Homo sapiens: one gene and its partners. The protein of the gene in region 1 purifies or fractionates together with the protein of each later gene. This does not show direct contact. Each region holds a gene or a part of one and is shown in the gene's direction. Other genes may lie near its edges. The genes, in order: FLI1, ARID2 and ARID1B.

Region 1 (3,653 bases):
TCTCCTTTGGTCCTGCTGCTGCTGGAGTGGCTGAGCAGCGGGCACTGGGTGTGACAGGGTGGCACCTCCCCCAAGTATGCTGGAGGTGCGTGATGCTGGGCTGGAGGGCATGCAGAGTGTGTTTGCCAGCCAGCTTCAGGGCGCCAGGTGGCCATGGGTGGGACTTCACCCCTCCAGACAGCTGCCCATCACCAGTGCTGCAAAATACCAGGTGCTGATCAAGTTCTGTAGTTCTAGGCTAAGTTGGATGATCTGCTTTCTCTCTTGTGAATGTCCATACTGCTTCCACAGTGAGCTTGGGGCCAGGGATGCAAAATGCCACAGGGCCACCACCTCTCCATCAGGTGGAAGTTCCTGGACTCCATTCCTTCTCCAAGTAGCAACCAGCTCTTTTGCATGTGTGCTTGATAGTGAAGCTTAACACAGAAGACCTGAGTCCTGTTTCCACCTTGACTAGCTGTGTGACTGAGCCAGGCAGCCCCTGTCTCGATTTCATTAACCATGAAAAGGAGATAGTAACCCTTGCTGTGCCTATCCTGGGGGCTTATTGGGAAATTCGAATACAACAGTGCATAAGAAATGCATTAAACTTATATATGTGCAATAGAAATAACTCACTGAGAAAGCATTTGCTGCTCACCTCCTGTAAGAATACTAGGGTTAAACAAAGAAAGTGATGACTATCCTCTCAAGAACTCAGCAGTCAGGGGGCGCAGGCCAAGCTGAGAATCAGACAGTGTGACAAGTCCTTATAACCAAGGCGGGCACCAAGTGCTGGGGGACTGTGGGGAAGGCGTGTCTGGGAGCATGGACTAGGTTGCCTGGCAGTGAGGCTAAAAATGTAAGCTGCAGTCAGACAGGGAGGGCTGCGATGCCACACAAAGAAGCTCAGACCTTGGTCTGAGGGCACTGAGGCGCTGCCAGCAGTTTTTACGTACTGTAATTATAGGATTGGGCTGGGATTTGAAGAAAACTCTGGTGGCAGCATGGAGGATAGAAAGAGGGCATCATCATCATCATGACACCAAGTGTGGCCGGGCAATGGCTCCATGCTCATCATCGGAGCCCTGGGCTCATGATTCAGAGGCTGAGGCAAGCTGCCCTGTCAGTGCTGACCGCCTCTGGGCTTTGTCTCTTCTCACTTTAGGGAGTCTCCGGTGGACTGCAGCGTTAGCAAATGCAGCAAGCTGGTGGGCGGAGGCGAGTCCAACCCCATGAACTACAACAGCTATATGGACGAGAAGAATGGCCCCCCTCCTCCCAACATGACCACCAACGAGAGGAGAGTCATCGTCCCCGCAGGTAATTCGAGAACCAGGCTGCCTGGGCGCCATTCACTTCCCCACTCTCTGGGGGGGCAGGGAGCATCTAAACCTTTATCTGATACTCTATTCCCTGTGGAATTGCAAAATGGAGAAAGCTGCACGCCAGCCGGGAGTGGTGGCTCGCGCCTGTAATCCCAGCACTTTGAGAGGCCAAGACGGGTGAATCACTTGTCAGGAGTTCAAGACCAGCCTAGCCAACGTGGTGAAACCTCATCTCTACTAAAAAAAAAAAAAAATACAAAAATTAGCCAGGTGTGGTAGTGGACGCTTATATTCCCAGCTACTCAGGGGGCTGAAGCAGGAGACTCGCTTTAACCGGGAAGGCGGAGGTTGCAGGGAGCCAAGATCACACCACTGCACTCCAGCCTGGGTGATGGAATGAGACTCTGTCTCAAAAAAAAAAAAAAAAAAAAAAAGCTGCACATTTTACCTGACTTCCTAGCTGCCCTTTAAGGCAGTATCCCAGATGTCACCTGATGTGTGGGTGCTAGAAGCCCCACCCTTAAACAGACCACATCACAGACTCTACATCAATGGCCTGGTCCTCAAGGACGGGCTGCTCAGAGAGCAGAGGCAAGGCCGCCTCCACCCAAAAGGAATCCCGTGAGCTCTGGATGTGGGCATCCCTGCCTGTGAGGAGGAGGTCAGCTGCAGAGGCCAGTCCTTCCCTCCAGGCTCGTACTTCCCGGCATCTACCAGGTTCCACCTTTCCAAAATTACAGCCAGCTCTTTCAGTTTTAAAATAGAAAGAACTATATTTAACTAATGGAGTGCCTTAACATGTGTGCCACAAGTTATGTCATTAGGTAAAAATAGCCTCTTTTTCCTAGGTGTTGGTGCTGTTGGTCCCAGAAAATAAAATCATCGTTCAGTCCTTCAGTCCATTGGCTGGACACTCCACCCCAGCTAGCACCAGCAAGCTCAGCTGCCTGCACAAGAAGGGTGTTTACAAACTGCCACGTGTAGAACTGGTGCCAGGTAGAAGGGGCAAGGATGTCCAAATCTTAAGCAAAGTGATTACAGGGCAGGGATTAAACCTGATCTTACCAAAATAACTTTACCAGAGAGGCAAAACTCCTTCCATTTGTAAAAGCATAAATGTAGTTGCCTCTGAAGTCAAAAGGTTAGACATCTCTTTGAGGTAGTCCGAAGGCATCTGCTTGTAGGTCTAAAGGCAGAAATGTTAAGGGCTGCCTCCTGCCTTGGCCCGTGGTGTTTGTTTTCCCTGGGAAGCTGCATCTCACCATATCCCTGGATTACAGCTGCCTCCCTGTGCTCTGGGCCAAATTCAAGAAGGTGTGAGCAAGAGTGAGGCAGCAGACGGGTGGGGCTTGTAGAAATTTCTCTGTACCCTTTAGGACTTAGAAATGACTCCTAAAGCAATTCTAAGTTTGCTCTTCCACAAGCATCTGACCTAACAAAGGAAGAGGAAGAATCACTTCCATTTATTGAGTGCTTTCTAGGTGCCAGGCACCACGTAAATTGCTTTATCTCCATGGCATTACTTAAAACACCTGTCACAGGAGACCAGCTAGTAATGTTTAGCCCAGGTGTATCGTCTCCCTCCTCACTGAAAGCAGACAATGAAACTGTATTAGAACTGACAGGTGGGAATCTCTTTGTACAGCCCAAAGCAAAGCTGAGCCTCACTGGGTCTTCACTCAAATGGTTTCAAACTCCCCTGCTTCAGTCAAACAGCTCCCAGCCTGGGAGGGAAAGCTTGCTGGACTGAAGGGTTTGGGGATCTGAGATTGTCTTTGAACCAACCTTTGGCACCATCTCATTTTGGTCGTCATTTTGGGGAAGGAATCTTGGAAATGGGCAGAAGTGGCCAGACTGCTATGTCGACCCTCCAAACTTTCTTTGATCAGTGTTGAAATGCTTTCAAAAGGAATAGCAAAACATCAGGCTTGGCTGAGCCAAGTTACCTATAGCGCTGGTGGTGAAAATAAAACAAATTCATGTCAAATGATTTTCAAAGCACTTTCAGGCTATGGATTTACTTCATTATTTTAGCTCCGGCTAGATCTTTTAGGTCCTCACACATTTTGGCTTCCTCCAGGCCAGGCTGTGGATATGAGGGGAAGTCTCATTTGGGCAAGTCCACAAATCAAGGCAATAAAATATTAGTGGAATAACCGATTGAATTTATGATGGGATTTAAAGACAAGTATAAATGTGGGCCCTAGTTAATCACTAGCTCCATGTTCAGATGGGAAGAAACTAGGACTAAATCATCCAGGAAATGCATTTGGAAGAGTTTAGCATGATCCAGAGTTGAAGATTTATAATTCATTGTGCTGTAGAGGGAGAGTAATAATATTGTTG
Region 2 (3,653 bases), on another chromosome or scaffold:
CAGAAAAACTAAGTTTAGCCTATTATACATAGTGAGTTATGGAAAGAGCCTATCAGGGTAATCAGGCCTCCAATCCCAATTTATAGGTAAAGGTCATTTTAAGAAAAAGACAAAATGAGGTTTGAATTAGTTTGTAATGGATTACAAATTAAAACTGTTTTGAAATGGGGAAATGGGAGTGTGCAGCATGGAAAGTGTCATTGTTTTAGGAAGTAGCTGAAAAGCTTGGATAAGTTTTTTCTGAAGGAATTTGATCCAAGAGCCAAGGAAAGTTTAACCTTAGTTCAGTTTCCCCCCATTTTCTTCAGCTACAATGCAAATAGCACGTAATTGGGAACTTGTTTTATGTTATGATTATTACAAGACAGGATGCCGAATAGATATTCACTAAATAAAACTATTTCTTATAGAACATTTGTTGTCAGCAGACCAACCCTGCTCTCATTGGGATGTGAACATAGTTTTTATATTTGTTGTCAGTGTCATTTTTAATACTAAAATAAGCATGTTAATCTATTGATTTAATCTAAAATTTAGCATATATTTTTGCTACTAACGTATGAGTCAGTGAAATTTGATTAGTAGGTATAATTATTAGTTTTAACACATTGCCTCCACATGGCTTTAGTATATTTAAATATGGAGTTTCCTAGAGTATATTGTATAATGCTTAATTTTTCTCCTCTTTTAGGCTAAATGCTCATTTTGAAGTAAATCCAGATTGTTCTGTTTCTCGAGCAGAAATGTATTCTGAATACCTCTCGACTTGCAGTAAATTAGCTCGTGGTGGAATCCTAACATCAACTGGATTTTATAAATGTCTTAGGTAGGATCCATAGTTCTTTAAATAAAGTCCATTTACGTCACTTACAACATCTCTTGCTCTTTAAAGAAAATACCAAATATCTTATCTAGTTTTAAATATTTCTACTACTAGAAGTTTCGTATGGATAGGTTATAGTGTGGTGGAGGTTTAAATAAAAAGCAGTTTCAGAAATCACATCTAGTGTTTGTGTTGGAACATTATGAGATTTATCAAAGAAATGAAGTTTACTTTCTTTTTCCTACCTACTTTTACATGTTAAAGACATGACTGTATCTTTTTAATCTTGAATAATAGAATATAATATTATTATCTTCAAATACAAAGACTTTTTGATATTTTGCAAAGTACATAAAAATAGGTATCTTTTATTAGTTATATGTGGGTGGAATTGTTTAAAACCCAGCGACATTGTTAATAAATAATGATGTTTTAAATGGGATGATTAATCTTTTATATTTCTTTGCTTTCCATCCTTGCAGAATATAACTGTGAGTCATACTGGTTCATACATAAGCAACAGTAAACATACTGCTGTTGTTCATGTAAACATAATGTTAGAAGTCAATGTGATAGTTATCAAAACTTACTGATTATGTATGTACTTTACAGAACGGTCTTTCCAAATCATACAGTGAAGAGAGTGGAGGATTCCAGTAGCAATGGGCAGGCACATATTCATGTGGTAGGAGTAAAACGGAGGGCTATACCACTTCCCATTCAGATGTACTATCAGCAGCAACCAGTTTCTACTTCTGTTGTTCGTGTTGATTCTGTTCCTGATGTATCTCCTGCTCCTTCACCTGCAGGTGTTAATTTTTATTGTATTTTTAAAGTATTACTGATTTAATAATAAAACTGAATGAAAAATATATATTCTATGCATTTTAAATGTATAACTTTTGTGTCTCCAGTAGCATTTTCTTACTTGGTCTATTACCATATTCATATGATTCAAAATTGTTAGATGTTAATTTCTTAAAACTATTTTCTCTTAAGTAAAATAATTCCTACTTGGGATTTTCAGTCATTTCATTTGGAATTTTGACGTTTTCTTCATATTTTCAGGAATCCCTCATGGATCACAAACCATAGGAAACCATTTTCAGAGGACTCCTGTTGCCAACCAATCTTCAAATCTGACTGCAACACAAATGTCTTTTCCTGTACAAGGTGTTCATACTGTGGCACAAACTGTTTCAAGAATTCCACAAAATCCTTCACCTCATACCCACCAGCAACAAAATGCTCCAGTGACTGTCATTCAAAGTAAAGCTCCAATTCCTTGTGAAGTTGTTAAGGCTACAGTTATCCAGAATTCCATACCCCAGACAGGAGTTCCTGTTAGTATTGCTGTTGGAGGAGGACCTCCACAGAGTTCTGTTGTTCAGAATCATAGTACAGGGCCACAACCTGTTACAGTTGTGAATTCTCAGACATTGCTTCACCATCCATCTGTAATTCCACAGCAGTCTCCATTACACACAGTGGTACCAGGACAGATCCCTTCAGGCACTCCTGTTACAGTAATTCAACAAGCTGTCCCACAGAGTCATATGTTTGGCAGAGTACAGAACATACCAGCATGTACTTCTACAGTTTCACAGGGTCAACAGTTAATCACCACATCACCCCAACCTGTGCAAACTTCATCTCAACAGACATCAGCTGGTAGCCAGTCACAAGATACTGTTATCATAGCACCCCCACAGTATGTAACAACTTCTGCATCCAATATTGTCTCAGCAACTTCAGTACAGAATTTTCAGGTAGCTACAGGACAAATGGTTACTATTGCTGGTGTCCCAAGTCCACAAGCCTCAAGGGTAGGGTTTCAGAACATTGCACCAAAACCTCTCCCTTCTCAGCAAGTTTCATCTACAGTGGTACAGCAGCCTATTCAACAACCACAGCAGCCAACCCAACAAAGCGTAGTGATTGTAAGCCAGCCAGCTCAACAAGGTCAAACTTATGCACCAGCCATTCACCAAATTGTTCTTGCTAATCCAGCAGCTCTTCCAGCTGGTCAGACAGTTCAGCTAACTGGACAACCTAACATAACTCCATCTTCTTCACCATCACCTGTCCCAGCTACTAATAACCAAGTCCCTACTGCCATGTCGTCGTCCTCTACCCCTCAATCACAGGGACCACCTCCTACTGTCAGTCAAATGTTATCTGTGAAAAGGCAGCAACAGCAGCAACATTCACCAGCACCCCCACCACAGCAGGTACAAGTACAAGTTCAGCAGCCCCAACAAGTACAGATGCAAGTTCAACCTCAACAGTCGAATGCAGGAGTTGGTCAGCCTGCCTCTGGTGAGTCGAGTCTGATTAAACAGCTTCTGCTTCCGAAACGTGGTCCTTCAACACCAGGTGGTAAGCTTATTCTCCCAGCTCCACAGATTCCTCCCCCTAATAATGCAAGAGCTCCTAGCCCTCAGGTGGTCTATCAGGTGGCCAGTAACCAAGCCGCAGGTTTTGGAGTGCAGGGGCAAACTCCAGCTCAGCAGCTATTGGTTGGGCAGCAAAATGTTCAGTTGGTCCCAAGTGCAATGCCACCCTCAGGGGGAGTACAAACTGTGCCCATTTCGAACTTACAAATATTGCCAGGTCCACTGATCTCAAATAGCCCAGCAACCATTTTCCAAGGGACTTCTGGCAACCAGGTAACCATAACAGTTGTGCCAAATACGAGTTTTGCACCTGCAACTGTGAGTCAGGGAAATGCAACTCAGCTCATTGCTCCAGCAGGAATTACCATGAGCGGAACGCAGACAGGAGTTGGACTTCCAGTACAAACGCTTCCAGCCACTCAAGCATCTCCTGC
Region 3 (4,055 bases), on another chromosome or scaffold:
GAGACTTGTGCTGGAGACCCTCTGTAAACTCAGTATCCAGGACAATAATGTGGACCTGATCTTGGCCACTCCTCCATTTAGTCGTCAGGAGAAATTCTATGCTACATTAGTTAGGTACGTTGGGGATCGCAAAAACCCAGTCTGTCGAGAAATGTCCATGGCGCTTTTATCGAACCTTGCCCAAGGGGACGCACTAGCAGCAAGGGCCATAGCTGTGCAGAAAGGAAGCATTGGAAACTTGATAAGCTTCCTAGAGGATGGGGTCACGATGGCCCAGTACCAGCAGAGCCAGCACAACCTCATGCACATGCAGCCCCCGCCCCTGGAACCACCTAGCGTAGACATGATGTGCAGGGCGGCCAAGGCTTTGCTAGCCATGGCCAGAGTGGACGAAAACCGCTCGGAATTCCTTTTGCACGAGGGCCGGTTGCTGGATATCTCGATATCAGCTGTCCTGAACTCTCTGGTTGCATCTGTCATCTGTGATGTACTGTTTCAGATTGGGCAGTTATGACATAAGTGAGAAGGCAAGCATGTGTGAGTGAAGATTAGAGGGTCACATATAACTGGCTGTTTTCTGTTCTTGTTTATCCAGCGTAGGAAGAAGGAAAAGAAAATCTTTGCTCCTCTGCCCCATTCACTATTTACCAATTGGGAATTAAAGAAATAATTAATTTGAACAGTTATGAAATTAATATTTGCTGTCTGTGTGTATAAGTACATCCTTTGGGGTTTTTTTTTTCTCTTTTTTTTAACCAAAGTTGCTGTCTAGTGCATTCAAAGGTCACTTTTTGTTCTTCACAGATCTTTTTAATGTTCTTTCCCATGTTGTATTGCATTTTTGGGGGAAGCAAATTGACTTTAAAGAAAAAAGTTGTGGCAAAAGATGCTAAGATGCGAAAATTTCACCACACTGAGTCAAAAAGGTGAAAAATTATCCATTTCCTATGCGTTTTACTCCTCAGAGAATGAAAAAAACTGCATCCCATCACCCAAAGTTCTGTGCAATAGAAATTTCTACAGATACAGGTATAGGGGCTCAAGGAGGTATGTCGGTCAGTAGTCAAAACTATGAAATGATACTGGTTTCTCCACAGGAATATGGTTCCATTAGGCTGGGAGCAAAAACAATGTTTTTTAAGATTGAGAATACATACCTGACAACGATCCGGAAACTGCTCCTCACCACTCCCGTCATGCCTGCTGTCGGCGTTTGACCTTCCACGTGACAGTTCTTCACAATTCCTTTCATCATTTTTTAAATATTTTTTTTACTGCCTATGGGCTGTGATGTATATAGAAGTTGTACATTAAACATACCCTCATTTTTTTCTTTTCTTTTTTTTTTTTTTTTTTAGTACAAAGTTTTAGTTTCTTTTTCATGATGTGGTAACTACGAAGTGATGGTAGATTTAAATAATTTTTTATTTTTATTTTATATATTTTTTCATTAGGGCCATATCTCCAAAAAAAGAAAGAAAAAATACAAAAAACAAAAACAAAAAAAAAAGAGGGTAATGTACAAGTTTCTGTATGTATAAAGTCATGCTCGATTTCAGGAGAGCAGCTGATCACAATTTGCTTCATGAATCAAGGTGTGGAAATGGTTATATATGGATTGATTTAGAAAATGGTTACCAGTACAGTCAAAAAAGAGAAAATGAAAAAAATACAACTAAAAGGAAGAAACACAACTTCAAAGATTTTTCAGTGATGAGAATCCACATTTGTATTTCAAGATAATGTAGTTTAAAAAAAAAAAAAAGAAAAAAACTTGATGTAAATTCCTCCTTTTCCTCTGGCTTAATGAATATCATTTATTCAGTATAAAATCTTTATATGTTCCACATGTTAAGAATAAATGTACATTAAATCTTGTTAAGCACTGTGATGGGTGTTCTTGAATACTGTTCTAGTTTCCTTAAAGTGGTTTCCTAGTAATCAAGTTATTTACAAGAAATAGGGGAATGCAGCAGTGTATTCACATTATAAAACCCTACATTTGGAAGAGACCTTTAGGGGTTACCTACTTTAGAGTGGGGAGCAACAGTTTGATTTTCTCAAATTACTTAGCTAATTAGTCTTTCTTTGAAGCAATTAACTCTAACGACATTGAGGTATGATCATTTTCAGTATTTATGGGAGGTGGCTGCTGACCCACTTGAGGTGAGATCTCAGAAGCTTAACTGGCCTGAAAATGTAACATTCTGCCTTTTACTAACTCCATCTTAGTTTAATCAAAGTTCAATCTATTCCTTGTTTCTTCTGTGTGCCTCAGAGTTATTTTGCATTTAGTTTACTCCACCGTGTATAATATTTATACTGTGCAATGTTAAAAAAGAATCTGTTATATTGTATGTGGTGTACATAGTGCAAAGTGATGATTTCTATTTCAGGGCATATTATGGTTCTCATATTCCTTCCTACCTGGTGCACAGTAGCTTTTTAATACTAGTCACTTCTAATTTAAACTTTCTCTTCCTGGGTCATTGACTGTTACTGTGTAATAATCGATTTCTTTGAAACTGCTGCATAATTATGCTGTTAGTGGACCTCTACCTCTTCTCTTCCCTCTCCCAATCACAGTATACTCAGAATCCCCAGCCCCTCGCATACATTGTGTCGGTTCACATTACTCACAGTAATATATGGAAGAGTTAGACAAGAACATGCAGTTACAGTCATTGTGAGACGTGACTCTCCAGTGTCACGAGGAAAAAAATCATCTTTTCTGCAAACAGTCTCTCATCTGTCAACTCCCACATTACTGAGTCAAACAGTCTTCTTACATAACAATGCAACCAAATATATGTTGAATTAAAGACCCATTTATAATTCTGCTTTAAATACATCTGCTTGCTAAGAACAGATTTCAGTGCTCCAAGCTTCAAATATGGAGATTTGTAAGAGGGAATTCAATATTATTCTAATTTCTCTCTTACAGAGTACAAATAAAAGGTGTATACAAACTCCGAACATATCCAGTATTCCAATTCCTTTGTCAATCAGAAGAGTAAAATAATTAACAAAAGACTGTTGTTATGGTTTGCATTGTAACCGATACGCAGAGTCTGACCGTTGGGCAACAAGTTTTTCTATCCTGATGCGCAACACAGTCTCTAGAGACTAATCCAGGAAGACTTTAGCCTCCTTTCCATATTCTCACCCCCGAATCAAGATTTACAGAAGCCCACGAAGAATTTACAGCCTGCTTGAGATCATCTTGCCTATAAACTGAGTTATTGCTTTGTCCTAAAAATTAGTCGGTTTTTTTTTTTCTATGAGGCTTTTCAGAAATTTACAGGATGCCCAGACTTTACATGTGTACCAAAAAAAAAAAAAAGATAAAAAATAAAGGTGCAAAGAAAGTTTAGTATTTTGGAATGGTGCTATAAAGTTGAATCTGTTGGTATTTGAGTGGATTTTTTTAATGTCACATAAGAGATACTGGGCGGCGTCTGCTCAGCAATAGCTATTCACAGTGTTTTGTTCGAGGAAGAGAATGATATAGAAGCATGTTTTACTGATGAAGGTGGCCTGTTCAAAGACTAGTTAAGCTGTTTTTTCAGAGTTATAATGAAGAATGATTTTTTTAAGGGCATATGGGCAGTCTCATACAATGTAAGCTATTAACTACCTCCTTTATGAAAAGAAGCCAGCCTTTGCCCTGAAGTCCATCCATTTAAAACTGTTGGAAATCTTTCATTTCCTATCAAACCACATGTACCTGTTCCCATGTCTGTTCACCTTTGAGGAAGCAAAGAAAGTATTATAAATGAGCCACAAATGGACAGTGCAAACAGTCCCTGTTCTTCTTGCTGAGTGTTGGTTCACTTCTTTATTTCGAGGGCCGTGGCCCAGCTGCCTGAAGTCCTGCTCAGCACCAGCCTAGAAGAACTTGGAAGTAAACTTCATGGTCAGGCAAGATTGTTAAAAACTCTGATGAATACACTTGGTAGCAGCATTTAATCTGCGAACAGGCAACATTACTCATGAATTTAACAGAGATGTGTTGAGCACATGCTATGTGCCTGGCTCTGTTCTAGGCTCTGAGG

The links.
Region 2: the proteins of FLI1 (region 1) and ARID2 purify together in Homo sapiens (affinity purification with mass spectrometry, with the first as the bait; one large-scale study listed by BioGRID). This does not show direct contact.
Region 3: the proteins of FLI1 (region 1) and ARID1B purify together in Homo sapiens (affinity purification with mass spectrometry, with the first as the bait; one large-scale study listed by BioGRID). This does not show direct contact.

Annotation. Positions count from the first base shown.
Region 1 is NC_000011.10:128,766,971-128,770,623, forward strand, and holds part of FLI1 (Friend leukemia integration 1 transcription factor), read left to right. Parts: intron 1-1,147; coding exon 1,148-1,302; intron 1,303-3,653. UniProt on the Homo sapiens protein: Sequence-specific transcriptional activator. Recognizes the DNA sequence 5'-C[CA]GGAAGT-3'.
Region 2 is NC_000012.12:45,848,145-45,851,797, forward strand, and holds part of ARID2 (AT-rich interactive domain-containing protein 2), read left to right. Parts: intron 1-691; coding exon 692-826; intron 827-1,413; exon of another isoform or gene 1,414-1,435; coding exon 1,436-1,632; intron 1,633-1,891; coding exon 1,892-3,653. UniProt on the Homo sapiens protein: Involved in transcriptional activation and repression of select genes by chromatin remodeling (alteration of DNA-nucleosome topology). Required for the stability of the SWI/SNF chromatin remodeling complex SWI/SNF-B (PBAF).
Region 3 is NC_000006.12:157,207,378-157,211,432, forward strand, and holds the end of ARID1B (AT-rich interactive domain-containing protein 1B), read left to right. Parts: coding exon 1-514; 3' UTR 515-3,402; downstream 3,403-4,055. UniProt on the Homo sapiens protein: Involved in transcriptional activation and repression of select genes by chromatin remodeling (alteration of DNA-nucleosome topology).